7 linked regions of the Homo sapiens genome follow. The protein of the gene in region 4 purifies or fractionates together with the protein of the main gene of each other region. This does not show direct contact. Each region holds a gene or a part of one and is shown on either strand. Other genes may lie near its edges. The genes, in order: DSC2, SERPINA12, POF1B, GMCL1, JUP, A2ML1 and SULT2B1.

Evidence for each region.
Region 1: the proteins of GMCL1 (region 4) and DSC2 purify together in Homo sapiens (affinity purification with mass spectrometry; 3 studies listed by BioGRID and IntAct, with this or other methods). This does not show direct contact.
Region 2: the proteins of GMCL1 (region 4) and SERPINA12 purify together in Homo sapiens (affinity purification with mass spectrometry; 3 studies listed by BioGRID and IntAct, with this or other methods). This does not show direct contact.
Region 3: the proteins of GMCL1 (region 4) and POF1B purify together in Homo sapiens (affinity purification with mass spectrometry; 3 studies listed by BioGRID and IntAct, with this or other methods). This does not show direct contact.
Region 5: the proteins of GMCL1 (region 4) and JUP purify together in Homo sapiens (affinity purification with mass spectrometry; 3 studies listed by BioGRID and IntAct, with this or other methods). This does not show direct contact.
Region 6: the proteins of GMCL1 (region 4) and A2ML1 purify together in Homo sapiens (affinity purification with mass spectrometry; 3 studies listed by BioGRID and IntAct, with this or other methods). This does not show direct contact.
Region 7: the proteins of GMCL1 (region 4) and SULT2B1 purify together in Homo sapiens (affinity purification with mass spectrometry; 3 studies listed by BioGRID and IntAct, with this or other methods). This does not show direct contact.

The regions. Positions count from the first base shown.
Region 1 is NC_000018.10:31,058,340-31,061,380, reverse strand, and holds the end of DSC2 (desmocollin-2 isoform Dsc2a preproprotein), read left to right. Parts: 3' UTR 1-2,541; downstream 2,542-3,041. UniProt on the Homo sapiens protein: A component of desmosome cell-cell junctions which are required for positive regulation of cellular adhesion.
Region 2 is NC_000014.9:94,492,470-94,495,969, forward strand, and holds part of SERPINA12 (serpin A12 precursor), read right to left. Parts: intron 1-3,500. UniProt on the Homo sapiens protein: Adipokine that modulates insulin action by specifically inhibiting its target protease KLK7 in white adipose tissues.
Region 3 is NC_000023.11:85,299,666-85,303,165, reverse strand, and holds part of POF1B (protein POF1B), read left to right. Parts: intron 1-3,500. UniProt on the Homo sapiens protein: Plays a key role in the organization of epithelial monolayers by regulating the actin cytoskeleton. May be involved in ovary development.
Region 4 is NC_000002.12:69,843,160-69,846,659, reverse strand, and holds part of GMCL1 (germ cell-less protein-like 1), read right to left. Parts: coding exon 3,399-3,500; intron 2,530-3,398; coding exon 2,464-2,529; intron 2,076-2,463; exon of another isoform or gene 1,793-2,075; intron 1-1,792. UniProt on the Homo sapiens protein: Possible function in spermatogenesis. Enhances the degradation of MDM2 and increases the amount of p53 probably by modulating the nucleocytoplasmic transport.
Region 5 is NC_000017.11:41,780,212-41,783,711, forward strand, and holds part of JUP (junction plakoglobin), read right to left. Parts: intron 1-3,500. UniProt on the Homo sapiens protein: Common junctional plaque protein. The membrane-associated plaques are architectural elements in an important strategic position to influence the arrangement and function of both the cytoskeleton and the cells within the tissue.
Region 6 is NC_000012.12:8,825,621-8,829,120, reverse strand, and holds part of A2ML1 (alpha-2-macroglobulin-like protein 1 isoform 1 precursor), read right to left. Parts: intron 1-3,500. UniProt on the Homo sapiens protein: Is able to inhibit all four classes of proteinases by a unique 'trapping' mechanism. This protein has a peptide stretch, called the 'bait region' which contains specific cleavage sites for different proteinases.
Region 7 is NC_000019.10:48,555,172-48,558,671, reverse strand, and holds part of SULT2B1 (sulfotransferase 2B1), read right to left. Parts: intron 1-3,500. UniProt on the Homo sapiens protein: Sulfotransferase that utilizes 3'-phospho-5'-adenylyl sulfate (PAPS) as sulfonate donor to catalyze the sulfate conjugation. Responsible for the sulfation of cholesterol.

The sequences.
Region 1 (3,041 bases), on a different chromosome or scaffold from region 4:
TCCCTTTGTGACTGTACCTTTGTATCCCTACAGAAAATCTGGGCATAGCTGAGAGGTTAGAATTGTGGAGTTTCTGCTAGCCACATCTTTTCTGTTTACTTATTTTGTTAGGATTCAAGGGAGAGGACAGAGCAGAACACTCACTGCTTTTCAGTTAACAAATATGAAGGCAAACTTGCTGATATATTCGCTTGTATAATTTTTAGAGTGTGTTTCACTGACCATCAGCATCAGAATCACCCTGGTGTTGCTGAAAATAGAGATCCCTCATGAATCAGTCACAGGAGTAACAGGCTAGTAGGGGAAAAGTATAGAAGCCTTCACTTTTCAATACATTTTCTAGGTCATTTTTTCTTACTCTAAAGTTTGACAATCGTTAGGGTTTTAGTAACTGGGTTTATTGATTATTTGGTGGTTTATGAAACTTAAGTATTTAAAATTTGCCTTTTCATATAAAACATATTAAGCAAAATGCTAGAAATGTACCAAAGAGTTGAAACACATTGATGAGTAAAATTTCACAATGTCTGCAAATTAAGCATTTCAGAATGTACATTGTTCCCTGTGGTTTCTACTTTCTACATGCATGTGAACGAGAGAAATAGTCTTAAGGTAGGAATGCAGAACAAAGCCACACAGAAAACATTTAATAAAAATTAACAAGTTTTGCCACATAAATGCTGCTAGTCAAGAAGATGTATGCAAAGTAAGTTGCATATATTTTTAAAAATCAGAATTGCCAAATCTCCAGAGATAAATAGAACTAGAAAGGTCAACAGCAGGTGGAACAAGTGACTGTCCAGAAGGCAGCAACTGTTTGGCATCACTGTGCTGTTGTGTGGGGACCTGTGTCAGGTGGGGTAACAGGTAATGCTCACTGACTGTGGCGGCCAGGAGCTTCAGAGGGGCCTGTGAATCAGGGATGGGAGATGAGGGTAGAGACGAGACTTTTCAGCTTAAGGAGTGTTCCCCTGGGAACAGGGCCAATTGGAAAACTCCCAGGCACCAAGGACATGAGTTAACCAATAGGGAATGAGAGGCTCAGAAAGCCAGAGGTGAAAGGAGCAGAGGGTGTCAATATACACAAGATGTGATGCAGAATTACCAATGAAATCAAGTAAAAGGGATTTATCCAAAAGAAGTAAGAGAATAGTGTAAAGATTCTACTCACATGCAAGGATGTTTGTCTCAGTGGCATTAAATATATGAATAACTGAAAATAAACTAAATGTTCCATGACAGGGAAGTAATTAAATGATGTATGATCCATTACTGTGATACAATGTACCATAATTGAGGACAATGGAAACAATGATCACACACAGACTTCGCAGTCAGAAAGACGTGGATCCAAATCTCAGCTTTGTTCTTGCTGTGTTACCTTGGGAAATCACAGAAACCTCAAATTTCTAGCATATCAAATAAGGACAAATTAGGAATAAATTATATAATTCACATAAAGATCCTAGCTTACTGCTTGGCTCATCAGTATATCAATAACCAGCAGCTATCACTATTGTGATATGATGATGGAATATCATGCAATCATTTTATTTTGAAAACTTTAATTAAATGGGAAAAGACATAAACTATAGTAGTATTTTAAAACTAGGATAGGTTTCCAAATTATTATAATCTCACATTTAAATAAATATGAGACTATCTGTAATACACTAAGATATTGAGTGATAAATCCTCGGTAAATGAAATATTTATTCATTGTGTGTTTCCATGTTTTCATTTTACCACAAGCATTTATAATTTATAACATTGAGGGAAAAGTTCATGTAAATGAAATACAGAGCAAGAAAAACTCACAGGCTTTAGAATTTGGGGAGCTTACAGGCCTGTGAAGAAAAGCCTTTTCATCTTAGCTTTAATAAATAAAGTTTTCACTGAACATATTATATTTACAGTAAATGATTAAATTGAAAGCAAAAAGAAAATACTGTATCATCTCACATTATCATAACTGAGTGCATTCATGTGCTTTTGGTCTTAAAATTTTACTTTAACGCACTTAGGATTTGTCGTCAGTAATTTGTTATGCACTATCTAGACTAAGAATAGGTATTAATTTACTAGAATTGTCAAATGAAATATTTCAAGCAAAGTTTGCATAATGAATGCAAGTTTAAACCAATTAAATGTGTTCACTTTTTAGCAAGCTAAGCTGCTCCTTATTTCTCCTGTAGTAGACACAATCACAGTTAATCTTTGCACAATGCATCGCATTCTCCATGCAACCTAACAGAGCGGTCTGGGATAGAGCCTGAACTTTGGGTCCCTTGGGGCCCAACAGGCAAGGTTCAGATCTGGGCTCTACCACAAACCATCTGTGTAACCTGAACCTCCCTAGTCTTCAGTTTCCTCATCTGCTTTAAAAAATTGCTAGAACATAGTTCTATGTAAATGTTCGGTGTTAAAATTTATTTGGTATCTACTGTATGTAAGATATGGCCTCTGCTCTCAAAAATATGTAGTCCCAGAAGTGATATAATATGTTCACGGAGACGTACTATTAAAAAGTGCCACAAAAAATCTGTAATGGAATGTTCTTACAAATATTACGTGTGCGTGTGTGTGTGTGTGTGTGTGTGTGTGTGTGACCTTTTTTAGCAAGAGATGTCCCAATCCCTTCACATTTACATCATTACAGAATTCCTTTGGAATCAATGGCAAATGTCCTCCTGTGGGGAGCCAGGTGTACTGTGAGTTTCTGTTATCATTCAGGGAAGAAAGCTGTCAAAAGCTTGCTTGTTTTAAAATTGTAAACAAGTTAGTGCTGGACATTGGGAATTTTACCTTATTATAATAAACAAAATCAATTTTGTTACTTGTTGAGCCTTGTTCCGGCGGCAGTTTAAGTTATTTATTAAACAAATAAATTGAGTCCTTTTGAGGTTTCTTCTTAAGTTTTCTTAGGGCAGGTTTGGTGGAGACTTTAGGGCTAACTTAAGTCCTTTGCTGAGGTGTGACTCCACCAAATGTCCAGAGTTTTCAGAGGAAGATCTTTTCTTTCCACTGCCTCAAACTTCAAT
Region 2 (3,500 bases), on a different chromosome or scaffold from region 4:
AGAAGCCACTTCTATGAGCTGTAAGTTTTCCCTGGCCCCCTGCGAGGTTTCATGATAGGAAAGATAAGGGCATCTTTGTATCTGATGGAAATGATTCAGAAGAGAGAAAAACATATGCTGATGTAGGAAAGTGAGGAGAGGATTTCTAGGGTGATGTTCCTGAGTAGCAGGGGGCCGTAGGTCCAGTGCGTAAATGAGGAGATCGGCTTTAGTTTGTGCCAACGTGGGAAGGCACTAAGTGCAGCTGTGCTGACAGGTGAGTGCATATACCAATATGTACGGAAATGTGTGGGGGGCACCCAGGCTGGGAGTGGACCCTCGACACTTCTGAACAGGACAATGGCTATTTCAAAGCCACCAGCAGTTTTCTGCTCCTAAAGGTGGACCCTGGGAAACAGAGCTTTTCCTCTGGGGAAATCAGAGCAGCACCTGGCCTCAAATTATGCAAATCCAAAGCAGGTGTCTGCCTCCTGCACAGAGGCCAGGTGGAAGTCATCCGAAGCCTAAATTCTGACATGTTCTACACACATGTAAGTTGGTGTGTGTCTGTTGACTTGGTTACTTCTTTTAGGGAAAAGGTGATTTTTCTGCTCAGTGTCTTCTAGGCCCTCCAGTCTGGAGAGGACTGCAGAAAGAATGCATAGGGATAGCCCGTCCACCTCTGCTCTCCCATAGCGGGCCACTGAGCTCTCTGGACTAGGCTTCCCACCTGTAGATCAAAGCAACTTGACCACTTATCTCCCAGAAATAATGAGCTCAGAAGGTAGGAATGTTTGTTCCTATCATGTTCTAATGAAATGTAATTCCCTGGGGACGGTGAGCAAGCCCCCTGTCCTGCAAGAGGATTTGGAGTTTCTTCTCGGGAAGGTGGACAATACCCTGTCTGTCATTCCAAGGCCAGAAGTGACTGGGTAGGCAAGACATCCCTGGGGTGAGAGGAACCTTCCTTTCTATGGCCCTCCTGGTGGGGAGGCCTGGCCTCAAGTCAAGGAGATGCGGAAAGCAGTCCCAGAGGGATGGGGGAGGCAGACCAGGCACTAGAAAAATGGAAGGAGGTGCCCTGGAAGAGATGCTGAGAGCAGCCTACACTTGGACTTCACAAGACGCCACTGAGAGCAGCCTGCACTTTACACCTGGACTCCACAAGACACCACTGAGAGCAGCCTACACTCTACACTTGGACTTCACGAGACGCCACTGAGAGCAGCTTACACTTGGACTTCACAAGACGCCGCTTCTGTGCGCTGTAAGTTATCCTGGGTCCCTGTGAGGAGCTTTGGTTCTGTTATTCCCAAACCTCCAGGAAGTCTGGCACTAGCCTACAGAAAATCTCAAAGGTTCTATTTCACTCTTGTGTAAAGGTGCAAAAGGAGATGAAGCCTGAAGCCAGAGAGATGGTGGCAGTGCCCAGGGAACATCTGTGTGGTTGGTGGTGGCCTGATGGTGGTCACAGCACCAGGGGCTGCAGAGGGCCTCAGTGAGGGGAATGTGAAGCCCCCAGTGTAGCACCTGAGCTGTAGCCCCATGGAGAAATTGTCAGACATGGCTTGGAGATAGGGGTGGAGTGCACTCAGGACAGTGAGTTCCAGCAAATCAACTGCAGAGTCTCAAGCCACTGTAATTTGAGTCCTACGGGAAATGTCATATTCTGGAGTCCATGTCTCACAAAGCCAGACTTCTGGATGAAGTGGGGTGGAAGACCTGGCATCCCTCCCATTTCTTACCTTCTCTTCATGTTCTACACCCCCCAGTTCCCTAGGGAGATCTCTCAAGACATCTCTGTGAACTCTAAAAATCTGTAGAGTGCAGGCTGAAACACGTCAGTCCCTTTGGGGATGTCCCCATGTTGAGACAACATGGGGGAACCCGTGGGTGGTAACTGAACTGAACTGATGTGACTCCTTTCACACGGAACATGGCTTGGAGGCATTGCAGAATGCATCTCTGATATCTAGAGTGAGCTGCAGGCTTGAGAAAGGAAAATTCTGGTTCTGAATGCTTTCAATAAAGTCACATTTATGGAAGGGGGGAGCTAAGTGACAGGGCATTCCAAGAGCGCTGCCATCCCTCGAGATCTGCACAGCCTCACCCGCCCCTCCCACTGGGAACATCTTCTGCAGTGGAAGAGCAGCCACCCTAGGGCTTCAACCTGAGGGTAAGAGGGTCAGATTTGCAGGACACCTGTCATTCAATAAACCAGAAGTTCAAAAGTTCTGCTGAGAACCTTGGAGCTCTGCCTCTTTAGACAATGGGAAGGAAAGAGGAATTTGCATTTGGATATGTTTTCTGTGGGGCAATGCTGTGCTAAGGCACATTTAATTCTCTCAAGAGTACTGTGGTGTTGGCGATATTATGGCCACACACCATAGATGAGAAGACCAGGTCTCAGCTAAAGGTTGTAACCTGGACCCCTCCTTTTGTTTCAGTGGCCAGACTCTGCCAACCCTTCCACCTCCCTGGTTCCCAGTGGGAAGGGCAGGTGAGACTATGCAGATCTCAAGGGATGGCAACGCTCTTGGGATGCTCTGCTACTTGGCTCCTCCATCCCAGTACCATGACTTAATTGGAAGCATTCGGAATCAGAATTTCCCTTTCTTTTTTTTTTTTTTTTTTTTTTGAGATGGAGTCTCGCTCTGTCGCCCAGGCTGGAGTGCAGTGGCGGGATCTCGGCTCACTGCAAGCTCCGCCTCCCGGGTTCATGCCATTCTCCTGCCTCAGCCTCCCAAGTAGCTGGGACTACAGGCGCCCGCCACTACGCCCGGCTAATTTTTTGTATTTTTAGTAGAGACAGGGTTTCACCGTTTTAGCCGGGATGGTCTCGATCTCCTGACCTCGTGATCCGCCCGCCTCGGCCTCCCAAAGTGCTGGGATTACAGGCGTGAGCCACCGCGCCCGGCCAGAATTTCCCTTTCTTAAGTCTGCAGCTCACTCTAGATATAAGAGATGCATTCTGGAATGCCTCCAAGACAGTGTTCTGCATGAAAAGAGTTGCATCAGTTCAGTTACCACCCATGGGTTACTAAGCTCAGTCCTAGCATCATCTGTACCTCTCTTGGTACCGTCCTTGGTGCCTGACAGGACGTTAGGTGTGGCAGAGGTTCTTAGTAAATACCTTTATGGAGATGCATGGGGAATGATGACAGGGACAAGGTGGAAGAGGGAAAGAGAACAGAGAAGAGGACATCTGACACCTGTCCAAGTGGAAACTGCCCACTCTGCTACATCCCCTTCACTGCTCTGGCTACTAGAGGCCACTAGCCCAGCCACTTTCAAGGCACTATGTATGTCCACGCTGACACTAAGTCCCCAAGACTTAAACCCAACACCAACTCTTACCTTTTCCCCCAAAATCTATCAGTAAGCAAGTGCCTGGGAGGAATTCTGTAGGCTTAGCATTAATCTAATATCAGTTTATGTTTTAAAAAGAAAAATATTTACTCTCTTTTATTCTTCAACTATTATTTGTATAACTTACTTTGGATACTTCATGGGTTTTGTTG
Region 3 (3,500 bases), on a different chromosome or scaffold from region 4:
TTTTTTTAACCAACCACATTAGTTAGGACTCTTTCTGTTTCATGTGACAAGAGACCCAATGTAAACTGGGACTTTTTAAATTCACTTAAATGGGGTTACTTGGTATCCAGATGGATTTGTGTGTTCAAAATATGCCTTTATAAATATGTCTTTCTTTATATCTTGGCTCTGCTCTTTCCTGTGTAGACATCTTAATCAGGTAAGGTCTACCCTCACGGTAGCAATATGACCACAAATTACATTCCAGCCATTTAGCAAAACCAAATATAAAGTAATTATGAATAGCTTCAGCAGAAGTCTATTTTGGATATTTCATATAAATGAAATAATACAACATATAGTCTTTTGTGTCTGGATTTTTCATTTTGCATAATGTTTGCAGGATGCAAGCATGATTTAGCATGAGTCAAGACTTCATTCCTTTTGGTTGCTAAATAATATCCAGTTGTATGGATATACATTTTATTTATTGATTAATCAGTTGGACATTTGGGTTGTTTTCAATTTTTGGCTATTGTGAATAATGCTGCTGTGAACGTCTGTGTACAAGTGTGTAAGGTACATGTATTCATTTCTTTTGAGTATATACCTAGGAGTGGAATTGATAGGTCACATGATAACTCTATGCTTAAGGAATTGCCATACTGTTTTCTAAAGCAAAAGCACCATCATACATTCCTAGTAGTGTATGACGGTTCCACTTTCTCCCCATCCTCGTTGCCATTTGTTATTGTTCATCTCTTGGATTATGGCCATCCTAGGTGGTGGAAAGTGGTATCCAATTGGAGTTTTGATTTGTATTCCCTAATAACTAATGTTTTTTAGCAATTTTTATGTGCTTATTGGCCATTTATACATCTTGTTTGAAGAAATGTCCATTCAATTTTTTTCCATTTTTTAAGTGAGTTGTCTTTTTATAGTTGAATTGCAAGAGATTTTCACATGTTCACAAGTCCCTTATCAGAGACAAGATTTGCAAATATTTTCATCAATTCCATGGGTTGTCTTTTCACTATCTTGAGAGTATAATATGCAGCATAAGTATTTAATATAGAAAAAAATCCAATTCATCTATATTTTTTCTTGCTTGTGCTTTTGGTATTATATACAAGAAACTGTTGACTAACCCAAGATCATAAATTTTACATTCATAAGTATTTTGTCTTATATTAATATAAACTGTCTTCTGGTTACTAATTGTATGAAATATCTTTTTCTGTCCTTTCATTTTTGACCTATTTGTGTATTTGATTCTAAACTGTGACTCTTGTAAACCACACATGGTTGTATCTTTTTATACATTCTGCCAATCTCTGCTTTTAGCTGGAATATTTAATGCACTTACATTTAATGTAATTCATAAGTTAGAATTTACATTAGCTATTTTGCTATTTGTTTCTATGTCTTATGTTTTTTGTTCTTCTGTTCCTCCATTCCTGCCTTCTTCTGTGTAAAATATTTTCTACAGTAACATTTTAATTCCATTTTAGTTACTTTTACTATATTTTCTGAGTTTTTCCCCTTAGGTTTCCCCCAGAAATTTAATTAATATTTACCTGTATAGTTACCTTTACTGGTGATCTTTATTTCTTCAAATGGATTTGGGATGCTGTATAGAGTCCTTAAATTTCAGCCTGAAGGACTCCTTTAGTATTTCTTGTAGGACTCCCTTTAGTATTTCTTGTAGAACAGGTTTTGCAGTGACAAATTCTTTGGGTTTTTGCTTGTATGGGAATATATTGCTTTTCCTTCATTTTTGAAGAATGGTTTTGCTGGATAAAATAATTCTCAGCTGACAGTGTTTTTTTGTTACTTGGAATATGTCATCCCATTGCCTTCTGGCCTCTATAATTTCTGATGAGAAATCAGTTGATAATTTTTAATTGAGGATCCCCCTGACATGTTTCTTTTTTACTGCTTTCAAGATTATTTTTTTCTATGGCCCTTGACTGTTTGATTATTATGTGTCAAGGTTTGGATCTCTTATTTTTCACTATTTGGCATTTGCTGAGCTTCTTTGATGTGCAGATTGATATTTTTAATCAAATCTGGGAAGTTTTCAGACATTTCTTCAGCTATCATTCCTGCCACTTTCCTCCCTCTCCTTGTGGAGTCCCCATAAACAGAACAGAATGTTCTGAGGCTCTGTTTATTTTTCTTCATTCTTTTTTCTTTCTGTTCCTCAGAATAGATAAACTCAACGGACCTTCTTTGCAATTTGTTGATTCTTTCTTCCATTTGCTTACATCGGCTGTTGAGAAATTTAAATCTAGTTATTATCTTTTTTACCTCAGAATTACTGTAGTTTCTCTTAAAAGTAATTTCTCTTTCTTTAATAATGTTCTTTATTCCATAAGCCACAACTCTCATCCTTTCCTTTAGTTCTTTAGTTCTTTGAGCATACTTAAAATAGCCAATTTAAAGGCTATGTAAATGCAACATCTGGCTTCTTAATGGATAGTTTCAAGTGATTTTTTCCATGATAGGCAATATTTTCTTGTTTCTTTGCATGTCTTATAATTTTTTATTGAAAACGTGACATTGAAAATAATATAATGTGGTAACTCTGGAAATTAGATACTCCCTCCTGCCAAGGTGTTCATTGTTGCTATTATTTGCTGTTGATGTTATTGTCTTTTGCTTAGTGGCTTTTCTGATTTAATTCTATAAAGTCTGTATTCTTTTCATATGTGGTCACTGAAGTCTCTGCTCATTTATCTTAGTGGTCAGTTAACATTTAAACAGAGGTTTCGTTACAAACATGAAACTAGTAAGTCTCCTAGTTTTCACTGAGAGGCTCTTTGTCTGTGTTTGGACACCTCTTCAATGTTCTGGTAGGCAATTTATAGCTCGTCCTTAGCCCCCAGTTCCTGCTTACACAGAGTTTTAAGGTTAGCCAGTACTGAGGGCTCAGGATTTTCTCAGGTCTTTCCTTCACATGCGTACAGCCTTGGGCATGTACAAAGCCCTACACATGCCTGTGGCTTTCTAGATTCCCAGGAACATATAACAAATTTTCAAAGCCCACTATGGACAATTTATTTCTCAGTTTTTCCTTTTATCATTTTTGGTCAATTTCTTGTCTGCCTGAACTATTATAGCCACCTCAGGTAGTTGTGATATTAAACAATTTCCACACATTATTTTCGACAAATGTTCCCAGGAAAAAGGATTTGCAAATTGGTTGAGCTACGAGTCAAGTTTTAAAAGGCATCCTTGCAAGTGGAGTTTTCCACAGAATCAACAGACAAATCAAACAATGACAATTATAACGACAATGTGGCTTTGAAGGAGCTCTAACCTTGTTTTGTCTTCTAGTTGCTGCCAGGCTCCTGGGTTTTACCCAGATTGTTTTAAGGGTCGGGCGCGGTGGCTCACGCCTGTAATCCCAGCACTTTGGGAGGCCGAGGTGGATGGATCACGAGGTCAGGAGATTGAGACCATCCTGGCTAACATGGTGAAACCCCGTCTCTACTAAAAATACAAAAAAAAAATTAGCC
Region 4 (3,500 bases):
CCTTTGTTCTTTCTTTCCTTTGAGCCATAAAAAGCCAAGAGAGCACGTGGGTTTTTAAGAGGATCCTGCTCCTTTTTCAAAAAGTTCAGTGAGAAATTAGAGTCATCCCCCTGTATCTGTGGGGGATTGGTTTCAGAACCTCCTACAAATACCAAAATCCTCTATGCTCAAGTCCCTTATATAAAATGGCATAGTATTTGCATGTAACCTATGCACATCCTCTCATATACTTTAAATCATCTCTAGGTGTTCTTACAGTACCTAATACAATGTAAATGTTATGCAATAGTTGTCATACTACATTGGGTTTTTTTGTTATTATTTTTTATAGTTTTTCCCCCAAATCTTTTCAATCGGCAGTTGGTAGAATCCACAAATGGAGAACCCATGGATAAGCAGGGTTGACTGTATTAAAGTGTTTCTAACGATTTTCAAATCAAACATTCTACGGTGATTTATTTATGCCTTGACATCACCAGGTGATGAAAGTCTCTCACACTTCTCTACCAAATTATCTCGTAAAGGCAAAAGAAAGGAAAAAAACCCCATAATCTAGGAGGTGGTCTAACCATAAAAAGTAACATTTCTATAAATTGTATCTTGAGAGTTCAAGGAAATTTGAATTCCCTCTATTCCATAATGTATTTAAACATAAAAATATTTACCTCTTCCCCACCTCCTCCCCACCAAAAAAAAAAAAAAAATCAGTAAAATTCACATTCTGGGAAGCTATGTAATGTTTGACTTTGGTTTTGTACATTTCCATCAGAATGTCACATACTCTCGGACACATTTGTATCCTTGTCTCAGAAGCACTGCTGTCAGGGAAATGCAAGCCAGAAAATGACTGTAATGCCAACCAGCCTTCAAAAGTTAACTGCTAGCCAGATTTTCTCAGACCCATCACAAATATCTTAGTCCCATTACTACAAATAAGCTCTTTGACAGCAAGAGACCATGACAAAATCATCTCTGCATTCTTCACAGCCCCTAATAGAGTATCTTTACATATAAAGGACAGTCAGGAAGTACTTGCTGCAGGAATAAATGGATAATATGCGTACTTAATCCAAAAAGCCAAACTAAGCTGGGTGCAGTGGTATGTGCCTATAATCCCTGCTACTTGGAGGCTGAGGCAGGAGGACTGCTTGAGCTCAGGAGTTTGAGTCTAGCCTGGGCAACATACCAAGGCCCCCATCTCTTTAAAAAAGAAAGGCTGCTCTGCAGCTTGGGTGGTGGGCAGGGTGGGCAGTCCTCATTGTCACCGCCATATTTCTTGTAGGTTTTTAGAACCCTGGAATCCATTTCTCACGGGTGACTGCGGTCCTATTATTCCAGCTTGGACTACATAGTCCACAGGTGATGGAGAAATCTTGGACCTCTGGCTCCATCTCCAGGACCTCTGGCTCTGCGCTGTGCTGCGTCTGACCAGGTCCCGCTTGAGGACGAAGGCGGCGCAGTTGACTGCAGGAGCCTCTGCAGCCCCAGCCTGAAGCCTGCATGGGACCCTGTGTGGCGCTAACAGGTTTTTTTTAAAGGAAGATTGATATTTTCTCAAAGAGAGGGGATGTCACTATGTTGCCCAGGATGATCTCGAACTCCTAGATTCAAGCAATCCTCCCACCTTGGCCTCCCAAAGTGCTGGGATTATAGGTCTAGGTTTTCCCAAATCGCTTTTCTGGTAGAGAAACCCTGAGGACTGATTGGCTTTTGCTTGTCTAAAACCATGGCCTGTGAATTTGTAACATTCAGGGACATGGCCACAGACTTCTCTCATCAGGAGTGGGAATACCTTGACCTGGTTCAGAAGACCTTGTACCAGGAGGTGACGGTGAAGAACCATGGTAACTTGTCTCACTCTCACTGAGGCTGGAGAGCAGTGTCGCAATCACAGCTCACTGCAACCTTGACCTCTATGGCTTAAGCAATCCTCCTGCCTCAGCCTCCAGAGTAGCTGGGACTACAGATTTGGATTCAAGGTGTGAAATAATCAGAGATGGAAAAATATACATTTATAGGAGACACACATTTGTTACTCCACATCAGAGAATTCATCCTAGTGAGAAAACGGATCAACATGAAAAGTTTTTGAAGGTAAAAAAAAAAAAAAAAAAAGGCCAAAACAGTTTCTTCAAACTTATTTCTCAATAAAAAAGATGATTTTTAAAATATAACTTTTAAATTCTCTAACAGCCTGGCAAAACCTGAAACTTTTCTATAGTCTTATAACAGTAATGCATTTTTCGGTTAAAACAGTAGACATAATATCCATTATATTATTCACAACAAAGAAATAAGTTTGCACAGCATTTCTTCAGTTTATGGATGTAGTCAAGCCCTTTCATTAAATTGTTTGCTTTTTCATAATATATTTTTGTGTTCTACAAAAATGTTATGTACTTTAACAAATGATAAACAATATTTTAGGATGACTAATTATGAAGTTACTTGAAATTCAAATACCTGAGTTCTTTAAAAAGTTCAACATTCTGGTGAGTCATCAAATTGTTTAGAAGCCATTCAAGGCACCTGAAATTAAAATATATAATTATTACATTATATGCCATGTATTTACAATTTATTAAGTAGGACTTATAGTTAAAATAAAATCAGATTAATCTTGCCAGAACATGCTCAAAACTTTTAGCTTAACAATAGGAAATTTAGTATTATTTTTGTCAGTGGATATTATTAAGAGAATATTTCCTTTATATTAACGAGAGCATTTCCAGTTTTAAAACTTCATTTTGAGTTTGTGTTAAATAGTTTATTAAGGGGTCTGCATACTAGTATAACCTTCTTTAAAATCTCAAAACAGGTACTGCAACTCTCAAGAGTTAGAAGGACTGTCAGTCTATCAGGCCTACTTCTTAAACAATTTTAATAGAAAATATACTATAAAGTGCAGTGGCATGATCACGGCTCATTGCAGTCTTGAACCTCCTGGGCTCAAAGAATCCTCTGACCTCAGCCTCCAGAATAGTGGGGACCACAGGTGCATGCCACCATGCCTGGCTAATTTTTAAAATTTTTTGTAGAGATGGGGTCTCCCTACATTGCTCAGGCTGGTCTTAATCTCCTGGGCCCAAGTGATCTTTCTGCCTTGGCCTCCCAAACCACTGGGATTACAGGTGTTAGCCACCACACCCGACCAAGGTGACCATGGTTTTTATAAGCATGTATATAACCCACCTATGGTCACTTACAAAGACGACACTTTTGAGGAATTTACTAATTAGTCCAAAAGTTAAAAGGGGCTTTTTATTTAATAAAATTCCATCCCCCTATCCTATTTTTCCTTAATTCTTTCTTTCTTATAGCTATACATTCTCTTAAGAAACTAAAGCAACCAAATTCCTAAAAGTGGGATAGGAAGAAAAACAAGAAAGGCAACTCACTTTTTCTTTACAGAATCTAATCCATAGGTCCCTGCTGATGTGTAATAGCCACATACAGTTTTCACATTAACTGTTTCCTTCATTGTCTCACCACACTGCTGT
Region 5 (3,500 bases), on a different chromosome or scaffold from region 4:
CATAGCAAGACCCTGTCTCTACACAAAACTTTAAAAATTAGCTGGGCATGGTGGTGCACACCTGTGGACCCAGCTACTTGGGAGGCTGGGCGGGAGGATTGCTTGAACCCAGGAATTCAAGGATGCAGTGAGCTGTGATCACGCCACTGCACTCTAGCCTAAGGGACAGAGCGAGTCCCTACCTCAAAAAAAGGAAAGAAGGCCGGGCGCAGTGGCTCACGCCTGTAATCCCAGCACTTTGGGAGGCTGAGGTGGGTGGATCACTTGAGGTCAGGAATTCAAGACCAGCCTGGCCAACATAGTGACACCCCCATCTCTACTAAAAATACAAAAATTAGCTGGGCATGGTGGCGCATGCCTGTAGTCCCAGCTACTTAGGAGGATGAGGCAGGAGAATTGCTTGAACCTAGGAGGCAGAGGTTGCAGTGAGCCAAGACTGCACTACTGCACTCCAGCCTGGGCGACAGAGCAGGACTCCATCTCAAAAAACAAACCAAAAAAAAAAAAGAAAGAAAAGAGAAGAGGAGAAGGGAGGAGGAAAGAAAGCTGAGTGCCAAAAGCGGTGGCTCACGCTTATAATCCCAGCATGTCGGGAGGCCAAGGTGAGTGGATCACCTGAGGTCAGGAGTTCAAGACCAGCCTGACCAATATGGTGAAACCCCGTCTCTACTAAAAATACAAAAATTAGGCCGGGCACAGTGGCTCACGCCTGTAATCCCAGCACTTTGGGAGGCCGAGGCGGGTGGATCATGAGGTCAGGAGATCGAGACCATCCTGGCAAACACAGTGAAACCCCGTCTCTACTAAAAACACAAAAAAATTAGCCAGGCGTGGTGGCGGGCGCCTGTAGTCCCAGCTACTCGGGAGGCTAAGGCAGGAGAATGGTGTGAACCCAGGGGGCGGAGCTTGCAGCGAGCGGAGATCGTGCCACTGCACTCCAGCCTGGGCGACAGAGTGAGTGAGACTCCGTCTCAAAAAAAAAAAAAAAAAAAAATTAGCTGGGCGTACTGGCAGGCGCTTGTAGTCCCAGCTACGCGGGAGGCTGAGACAGGAGAATCACCTGAACCCGGGAGATGGAGGTTGCAGTGAGCCAAGATTGTGCCACTACACTCCAGTCTGGGTGACAGAGTGAGAGACTCCATCTCAAAAAAAAAAAAAGAAAGAAAGAAAGAGAAAAAGAAAGCTGAGCTTCCTGCTCTGCTGGCCCCAAAGGCCAAGATGCCAGGAGGCTGAGCAAAGGAGAGTGGTCCATGAGCTTGCCCTTCAGGCCTGGCAGAGGAAGTCGCTTCACAATAAGATATTCCATGTCCCCAGACTCAACCATGTCCCAGGAGAGGCCGCTCAGTGTCACTTGCAGGAACACAAGCCCTGGTGACCTGCCCAGCCACACTGCTTGCTTTTCCTCTTCACAGGGGTCACAGGACCAGCTCACAGATGCCTTTCCCTCTCACTGCCAGGTCGCTCTTCTCCCAAAAGATACAAATGAGGAGTCTCCCCAAAGGGCAGCAATTCCTGTCTGGCCTCCCTGCCGCACAGGATGGCCCTCATCAGAGAAGAGTCAATGCTGAGTCTCCACCTCTCCCTCTTATTTCTCAACTCAAGATTTCATCTTTAGCAGGCAGAAAGCCCCTCCTCCTGTCTAGACTGCGTCCCTTCAGTAAGTGCATCGGGCCTGCAGCTCTCAAGTCCTCGGGGGAGATGGAAAAACTGCAACCTCATGCCCTCTTTGTAGTAGTCAGTGGGATGGGGTTCATTCTGTTTTCTTCTCTGTCTCAAGTCCCATTAGCCTTCTCCACGATCAATAATCCCGTTGCCTGGGGTCCCCGCCTGCCCTCAGGGAATCCAGAAGCGCGGTAGTGACAGGTTCAGTACTCCGGCTGCACCATCACATAAAGAGAACCCATTTCCCAGACCCCAAATCCAGGCCCATTCTGGTGTCAGATGTCCAGTTGGCAGAGACACCAGAACCAGGCAGGTCTGGAGAACAATCTGACACCAGCTCCTCCCTAGAGGGCCAAGGCTCTGGCTGACAGGCAGCACACATGACCCCCACCTCCATCACCAGAAAAGCCCTCCCAGCAGCTGCCTATCTCAGGTCTCTTGGGCTTCAGAGCAGAGGACAGCCAGTTCCCCATCAAGAGCAGCCTGGCAGCACTGCCTCGTCAACTCCAGCAGGACATTAGCCCAGGCCTAAATCGGACTCTCGTTTCTCGCCAATCCCCACAGGGCAGCACCCCTTTATCTTGGCATAGCCCCAGCCCCCAGCAAAGCAGGCAACTCCCACTTCCTACACATGAACAAGCCCAGAACAGCCATGGTTCTACCTAACCCAAGCTAGGAGGCAGCACAGCTTTGACCCCTGCCTCCTCTTTCCCTCTCAACCTCCCCCCAACACTCACCACAGCCCTGGCCTTGGGGAGAAGCCGCTTCCACCGGAAACTAAAAATCAAGCCACTGGGGAGATTTAAGTGGGCTGGTGGCCAGGACAGGTATCACCCCCACCTACAAAACCTGCCCTACATTCACCACTCACACATGCCTTCATGGGCCCTTCTGAATTCTCTTCTCCCCAGTCAGGCAGAGGCTCTCAAAAGGGGGTGCAGAAAAATCCTTTCCGCTCACACCTGTAATCCCAGCACTTTGGGAGGCTGAGGCGGGCGGATCTCCTGAAGGTCAGGAGTTCGAGACCATCCTGACCAACATGGTGAAACCCCATCTCTACTAAAAATACAAAAATTAGCCTAGTGTGGTGGTGCATGCCTGTAATCCCAGCTACTCGGGAGGCTGAGACAGGAGAATCGCTTGAACCCAGGAGGTAGACGTTACAGTGAGCCGAGATCGCGCCACTGCACTCCAGCCTGGGTGGCAGAGCGTGACTCCATCTCAAAAAAAAAAAAAAAATCCTTTCCAGAGCTGCATGGGGCAATACAGCAGGATGGGTTCTGGGCTTGGAATCAGAGGACCCAAACGTCAGTCTTGGTGCTGCTTGGGTCTCGCTGTACAACATTGGGGAAATTACTTAAGTTCCTTGAGTTTCAATTTCCTCCTCTGTAGAATGCGAATAATGATACGCGTTTTTTTTGTTTTTTTTTTTTTTTTGAGTCAGGGACTCACTCTGTTGCCCAGGCTGGAATACAGTGACACAGCTCACTGCAGCCTTGACTTCCCTGGGCTCAGGTAATCCTCCCACCTCAACATTCCCAGTAGCTGGGACCACAGGCATGCACCACCACGCCCGGCTAATTTTTCTATTTTTTTGTAGAGACAGGGTTTCTCCATGTTGCCCAGGCTGGTCTGGAACTCCTGGGCTCAATCAAGCAGTCCACCCTTCTGGGCCTCCTAACGTGCTGGGATTGCAGGTCTGAGCCATCCAGCCTGGCCAGCCATAAGGATTAAGTAAAAATAGTTAATGAAAGTGCTTGGTTTGGGCCAGGTGAGGTGGCTCACGCCTGTAATCCCAGCACTTTGGGAGGCCGGGGCGGGCGAATCACGAGGTCAGG
Region 6 (3,500 bases), on a different chromosome or scaffold from region 4:
GTGATCACAGTGCCTGGTTTTAACTTTATATCACTGAAAGAGGCACTGAAGAGGGTAGAAAAGACACACTTGAATTGCTGATTCACCCCCTCCCCGCCATCCCCCAGCAGTGACTGTGGTACAGAGACAGAATCGATGAGCTTGAGGGCGGGAGAGCACAGTGACTGTGGGACTTGGCTTTAGAATGCAATGCTGCCCAATCACAGGGGAAAGCACACAGGGCAGAACTCAGCCAGTGCCCATGGAGGGAGCATTTAGACCAGCGTTAGCCAGGGGTGAACTGCCCATCCCAGCGGTTGGAAGCTGAGTTCCGATTAGCCCCTGGGGCTCTAAATACTCAGCAGTGATAGCTGGGCAGTACTTGTCGTGGGCCTTGGGTGAGACTCAGAGACATGCTGGCTTCCAGTGATTCAGCACATTCCCAGCTGTGGTGACTATGGGGAGAGACTCCTTCTACTTGAGAAAAGGAGAGGGAAGAGTCAAGGGGACTTTGTCTTGCAGCTTAGGTACCAGCTCAGCCACAGTGGGGTACAGCACCAAGCAGGCCCTTGGGGTCGCCAGTTATGGGCTGTGGCTCTTGGATGCCATTTCTGGACCTGCTGTTTGTCAGAGGAGAGCTCACTGCCCTGAAAAGAGAGTCCCAGGCCAGGCACCATTCACCACAAGCTGGTGAAAGGAGACTTTGGGCCTCGAGAGAATACTGGAAGTATCCAGGCAGTACTCCTGTGGGCCTGGAGTAGTGGTGGCCACAGAGAGAGACTCCTCTGTGAAAAGGGGAAGGAAGAGTGGGAAGGACTTTGTCTTATGGCTTGGGTGCCAACTCAGCTGCAGTAGAACAGAACACCAGGTAGATTCCTAAGGTTTCTGACTCCAGGCCCTGGCTCGCAGATTACATCTCTGGACCTTCCAGGGTCATGGGGAACTCACCACCCTGAAGGGGAGGACACAAGCCTGGCTGGCTTTGTCACCTGCTGACTGTAGAGCCCTAGGGCCTTGAGCAAACATGGGCAGTAGCCAGGTACTGGTTACCACAGGCCTTGGGTGAGACACAGTACGGTGCTGGCTTCAGATCTGACCCAGTGCAGTCCCAATGCTGGTGGCCACAGGGGTGCTTGTGTCACCCCTCTCTCCAGGCAGCTCAGCACAAAGAGAGAAACTCTGTTTGTTTTGGAGAAAGTAAGGGAAGAGAACAGGAGTCTCCTCCTGGTAATCTGGAATTCTTCCAGATCTTATCCAAGACCATCAAGGAGGTACCTCTATGAGCCTTCAAGAGCCACAGAGATACTGAGCATGGGGTCCTCCCTAATGCAGATGAACTGCAGAGTCCAAACACTTAGATTACGACACCCAAGTCCCTTCAAATACCTGGAAAGTCTGCCCAAGGAGGACAGGTACAAACAAGTCCAGAATGCCAAGACTACAATAAATACCTAACTCTTCAATGCCCAGACACCAATGAACATCCACATCAAGACCATGTTGGAAAAAATTACCTCACCAGATGAACTAAATAAGGCACCAGCAACCAATCTCCCAGAAACAAAGATAGTGATCTTTCAGATCGAGAATTCAAAATAGCTGTTTTGAGGAAACTCAACAAAATTTTAGATAACACAGAGAAAGAATTCAGAATCTTATCAGATAAATTTAACAAAGAGAAAAAAAAAGAGGTATTGACTTTAAAGAGGAGGTTGAGAGAGAAAATGAGATGGAAAGTTTATTCAAAGTGAAAATAACAGAGAACTTTCCAAACCTAGAGAAAGATATCAATATTATTATTATTTGAGACAGTCTCGCTCTGTTGCCCAGGCTGGAGTGCAGTAATGTGATCTTGGCTCATGTGACCTCCGCCTCCCTGGTTCAAGTGATTCTCCTGCCTCAGCCTCCCCAGTAGCTGGGATTACAGGCACAGGCCACCTTGCTTGGCTAATTTGGTATTTTTAGTAGAGACAGGGTTTTGCCATGTTGGCCAGGCTGGTCTCGAAATACTCATCTCAGGTGATTTGCCCACCTCAGCCTCCCAAAGTGCTGGGATTACAAGCATGAGCCACTGAGCCCAGCTGAGAAAGATATCAATATTAATTACAAGATTATAGAACACCAAGCAGATTTAGCCCAAATGAGTCTACCTCAAGACATTTAATAATCAAACTCCCAAACATCAAGGAATAAAAAACAAAAAAGAATCCTAAAAGTGCAAGAAGACAGACGTGGTGGCTTACGCGTGTAACCCCAGCACTTTGGGAGGCTGAGTGGGGAGGATAACTTGAGGTCAGGAGTTGGAGACCAGCCTGGCCAACATGGCGAAACTCCATCTCTACCAAAAATACAAAAATTAGCCAGGGGTGGTGGCGCTCACCTGTAAACCCAGCTACTCGGGAGGCTGAGGCAGGAGAATCACTTGAACCCAGGAGGCAGAGGCTGCAATGAGCAACCATTTATTGCATTCCAGCCTGCGCGGCAGAATGAGACTCCATCTCAAAAAACAAAAAAACAAAAACAAAAATTAGCTGGGCATGGTGGCGCATGCCTGTACTCCCAGCTACTTGGGATGCTGAAGCACAAGAATCACTTGAACCCAGGAGGCAGAGGTTGCAGTAAGCAGTGATCCCGCCACTGCACTCCACAGCCTGGGCAACAGAGGGAGACTCTGTCTCAAAAACAAAAAAAATTCAGTAACATTTCTATATGCCAACAGGGAACAATCTGAAAAAGAAATTAAGAAAGATAATTCCATTTACAATAGCTATAAATAATATAAAATACCTAGGAATAAACTTTACCAAAGAAGTGAAAGATCTCAACAATAAAAACTATAAAATACTGATGAAAGAAATTGAAGAGGACACACAAAAACATGAAAAGAGATTTCATGTTTCTGGATTGGAAGAATTGATATTGTTAAAATTCCGTACTACCTAAGGCAATCTACAGGTTCATTGCAATCCCTATCAGAATACTAATGACATTCTTCACAGAAATTCTACATCCTAAATCTTAGGACTTTTGTAAAAAAAATCATAAAATTTTTATGGAACCATAAAAGACCTAAAATAACCAAATCTATTCTGAACAAAAAGAACAAAGCTGGAAGAATCACATTACATGACTTCAAATTATACTGCAAAGCTATAGTAACCAAAACAGCATGGTACTGTCATAAAAACAAATACATAGACCAATGGAACAGAATAGAGAACCCAGAAACATGTCTAGGGTGAACTCATTTTTGACAAAGGTGACAAGTGTATACACTGGAGAAAGCACAGGCTCTTCAATAAATGGTTCTGGGAAAATTGGATATCCATATGCAGAAGAATGAAACTAGACCCTCATCTCTCTCCATATAGAAAAATCAAGTCAAAATGGATGAAAGATTTAAATCTAATACCTCAATCTATGAAACTATTATATATAAGAAAACTTTGGGGAAACTCTCCAGAACATTGGTCTGGGCAAAGATTTCTTGAGTAATACCCAAGGAGCACAAGAAACCAAAG
Region 7 (3,500 bases), on a different chromosome or scaffold from region 4:
AAGAAAAAAGAAAAAGCAGCCTCATGACTGGCAGGGCTTTGGCCATAAAATCATTCATGTGGCTCAGCCCTCCCTAAGGAAGGTGGGGCCGGGGTTGTAAAACCAGAGCTGGCCCCTCCTCGCCCTCCCCGTCAATAAGAGGCAGAGATCAGAAGGTGCCGGCGCCAGGGACTCCCGAGATCAGAGCGCGGGGAGGAGCGGCCACCGCAGCTCTCCTTGGCTGCCCGAGGCGCCCCAGGTCCAAAGGCCGGCGTGGCTTCTCTGGCCTTGACACTCTCCGTAGCCCAGCACGCAGGGAATGCAAGGAAACGCCTGGAACCGCAGAGCGCCTGCTAACGCCTCCTGTCTGGGCTGAGTCTCCCTCCCGGATCTCGCTCCTTCCGGGTCTTGCTCATCCCCAAGTTCCCCATCCAGGGCGTGATACAGTCAGGCTTCCCTGGTTCAAATCCTGGCTACGCCCTGCTTGGCAGCTGTGTGACCCTGGGCAAGTCACTCAACCTCTCTGGGCCTCACCTCTTACAGGGGATGATAGTAGTTAAAATGGGTTAATCTCCGACGGCTGTAAGGATTAGATGAGGTAATACAGACAGCACTCAACAGGTTGAGAACAACTGCAAGGATGTTACAGGGATTATAACATCCTGGGCTTGTCAGCCTACTGGGTCAGCAGCCCATCCTGCCTACCGCCTGTGCCAAATGTTTTCCTCTTACGATTTTATTTTTTTTAATTTTTTTAATTTTAATTATTTTTTGAGACAGAGTTTCACTCTTGTTGCCCAGGCTGGAGTGTAATGACACGATCTCGACTCACCGCAACCTCCGCCTCCTGGGTTCAAGCGATTCTCCTGCCTCAACCTCCCGAGTAGCTGGGATTACAGGCATGCACCACCATGCCCGGCTGACTTTTTTCTATTTTTAGTAGAGACGGGGTTTCTCCATGTTGGTCAGCCTGGTCTCCAACTATCGACCTCAGGTGATCCGCCCACCTCGGCCTCCCAAAGTTCTGGGATTACAGGCGTGAGCCACCGTGCCCGGCCTCTTACGATTTTAATTTAGCCCTTATTATCCTTTTAAGTCCTTTTTACATACAAGACCACATGGAACACATATTAAATTTCTTTTTTCTTTTTTTGAGATGGAGTTTCAATCTTGTCACCCAAGCTGGTGTGCAGTATGCGATCTCAGCTCACTGCAACCTCCGCCTCCTGGGTTCAAGCAACTCTCCTGCCTCAGCCTCTCCAGTAGCTGGGACTACAGGCAAGTGCCACCACGCCTGGCAAATTTTTGTGTTTTTAGTAGAGACGGGGTTTTACCATGTTGGCCAGGCTGGTCTTGAACTCCTGACCTCAAGTGATCCGCCCACTTCAGCCTCCCAAAGTGCTGGGATTACAGGCATGAGCCACAGAGCCCGATCTCACATATTAAATTTCTCATAATTCATAATGAACCCCATAAACTAGAACATTCTGAGCGATGCATCTTGCTGATATCTCTGGGCCCCTTCCTGTGGCATCTACCCGTCCCTTGAGCTGCTATCCTGAATTAAATTCTGGTCAATTCCTTGTTTGGTTTTTATTTTATTTTTTTAGAGACGGGGTCTTGCTGTGTTGTCCAGTCTGGTCTTGAACTCCTGGCCTCAAATGATACTCCTGCCTTGGCCTCCCAAAGTACTGCAATGGACAGGAGCCACCATGCCTGGCCTAGGACAACTTTTTTTTTTTTGAGACAGAGTCTTGTTCTGTTGCCCAGGCTGGAGTACAGTGGCAGGATCTCAGGTCACTGCAACTTCCGCCTCCTGGGTTCAAGCGATTCTCCTGCCTTAACCTCCTGAGTAGCTGAGATTACAGGTGTGTGGCACAACTCTGGCTAATTTTTTTATTTTTAGTACAGATGGGGTGTCACCATGTTGGCCAGGCTGGTCTTGAACTCCTGACCTCAAGGGATCCACCTGCCTCGGCCTCCCAAACTGCTGGGATTACAGGTGTGAGCCACTGAGCTGGCAACTTTTTTTTTTTTTTTAAATCACATATGCGTGTATTCTGAAAACAATAGTTTCTCTCCCTGGAGGTGCTTAAAAAACGAACCATTTGAGAGCCACTCAGGTCTGCTGCAGGATGGCCCACCACGGGGAGTTTCCACGGCAGCTGGCCCTCTCCTGACCCAGCTGCCCCTTACTCTCCTGAAGCCACCTGTGTCCCTGTGCCCCAACCATTCCCTTTCCCAGCACTCCCTGCCCCTCCTCCCCGTCTGCTAACCCTGACTCATCCTGGAAGCTCCGGCTCAGAGGTTGCTTAATGGAGCCTCCATTCATTCATTCATTCTTGACGTCCTTTTCACAGATTTCCTACATTCATTTCCTATCCACGAACAGGCCAATATTTTGGTGCCACGGGGCAGATTTGAAGCTAGACCAGCGTGATCAGGGACCTGGGACCTGGCGTGGGTGTCTGCCTGCATTCTCTCATTCCCCTGGCCAAAAATCCTAAATTGCCCGTGTTGAATCTTAACGCCTGAGAAGTTTGGCAAAGGAAGGAGAGAGGGCAGAGGTCAGCCCAGGCAAAGGACACTGCGCTGGTGCACGCAAAGTCCCGAAAGTGGCGAAACCCTTTCTCTACTAAAGATACAAAAATTAGGCCGGGCGCGGTGGCTCACACCTGTAATCCCAGCACTTTGGGAGGCCGAGGTGGGCACATCACCTGAGGTCAGGAGTTCAAGACCAGCCTGGCCAACATGGTGAAACCCCGTTTCTACTAAAATACAAAAAATTAGCCGGGCATGGTAGAGTGTGCCTGTAATCCCAGCTACTCAGGAGGCTGAGGCAGAAGAATCGCTTGAACCTGGGAGGCGGAGGTTGCAATGAGCCAAGTTCGCATCACTGCACTCCAGCCTGGGTGACAGAGCAAGACTCCATCTCCAAAAAAAAACAAAAATTAGCTGGGTGTGGTGGCGCATGCCTGTAATCCCAGCTACTCTGGAGGCTGAGGCAAGAGAATCACTTGAATCCAGAAGGCAGAGATTGCAGTGAGCCGAGATTGTGCCACTGCACTCCAGTGTGAGCCACAGAGCAAGGCTCTGTCTCAAAAGAGAGAGAGAGAGAGAGAGAGAGAGAGAGAGAGAGAGAGGATGTCTCTGGGATCCCTATGCAAGGAGCCAGATAAGCAAAGAGAGAGAGAGAGAGAGAGAAGATGTCTCTGGGATCCCTATGGAAGGAGCCAGATAAGCAAAGGCACTGTGGCAGGGAACAAGCGTGGCCAGGGAATTCAAAGTAATAGAGTAGATAGGCCGGGCACGGTGGCTCACGCCTGTAAGCCCTGCACTTTGGGAGACCAAGGCGGGTGGATCACCTGAGGTCAGGAGTTCGAGAACAGCCTGGCCAACATGGTGAAATCCTGTCTCAACTAAAAATATAAAAATTAGCCAGGCATGGTGGCGGGTGCCTGTAATCCCAGCTACTTGGGAGGCTGAGGCAGGAGAATCGCTTGAACCTGGGAGGCCGAGGT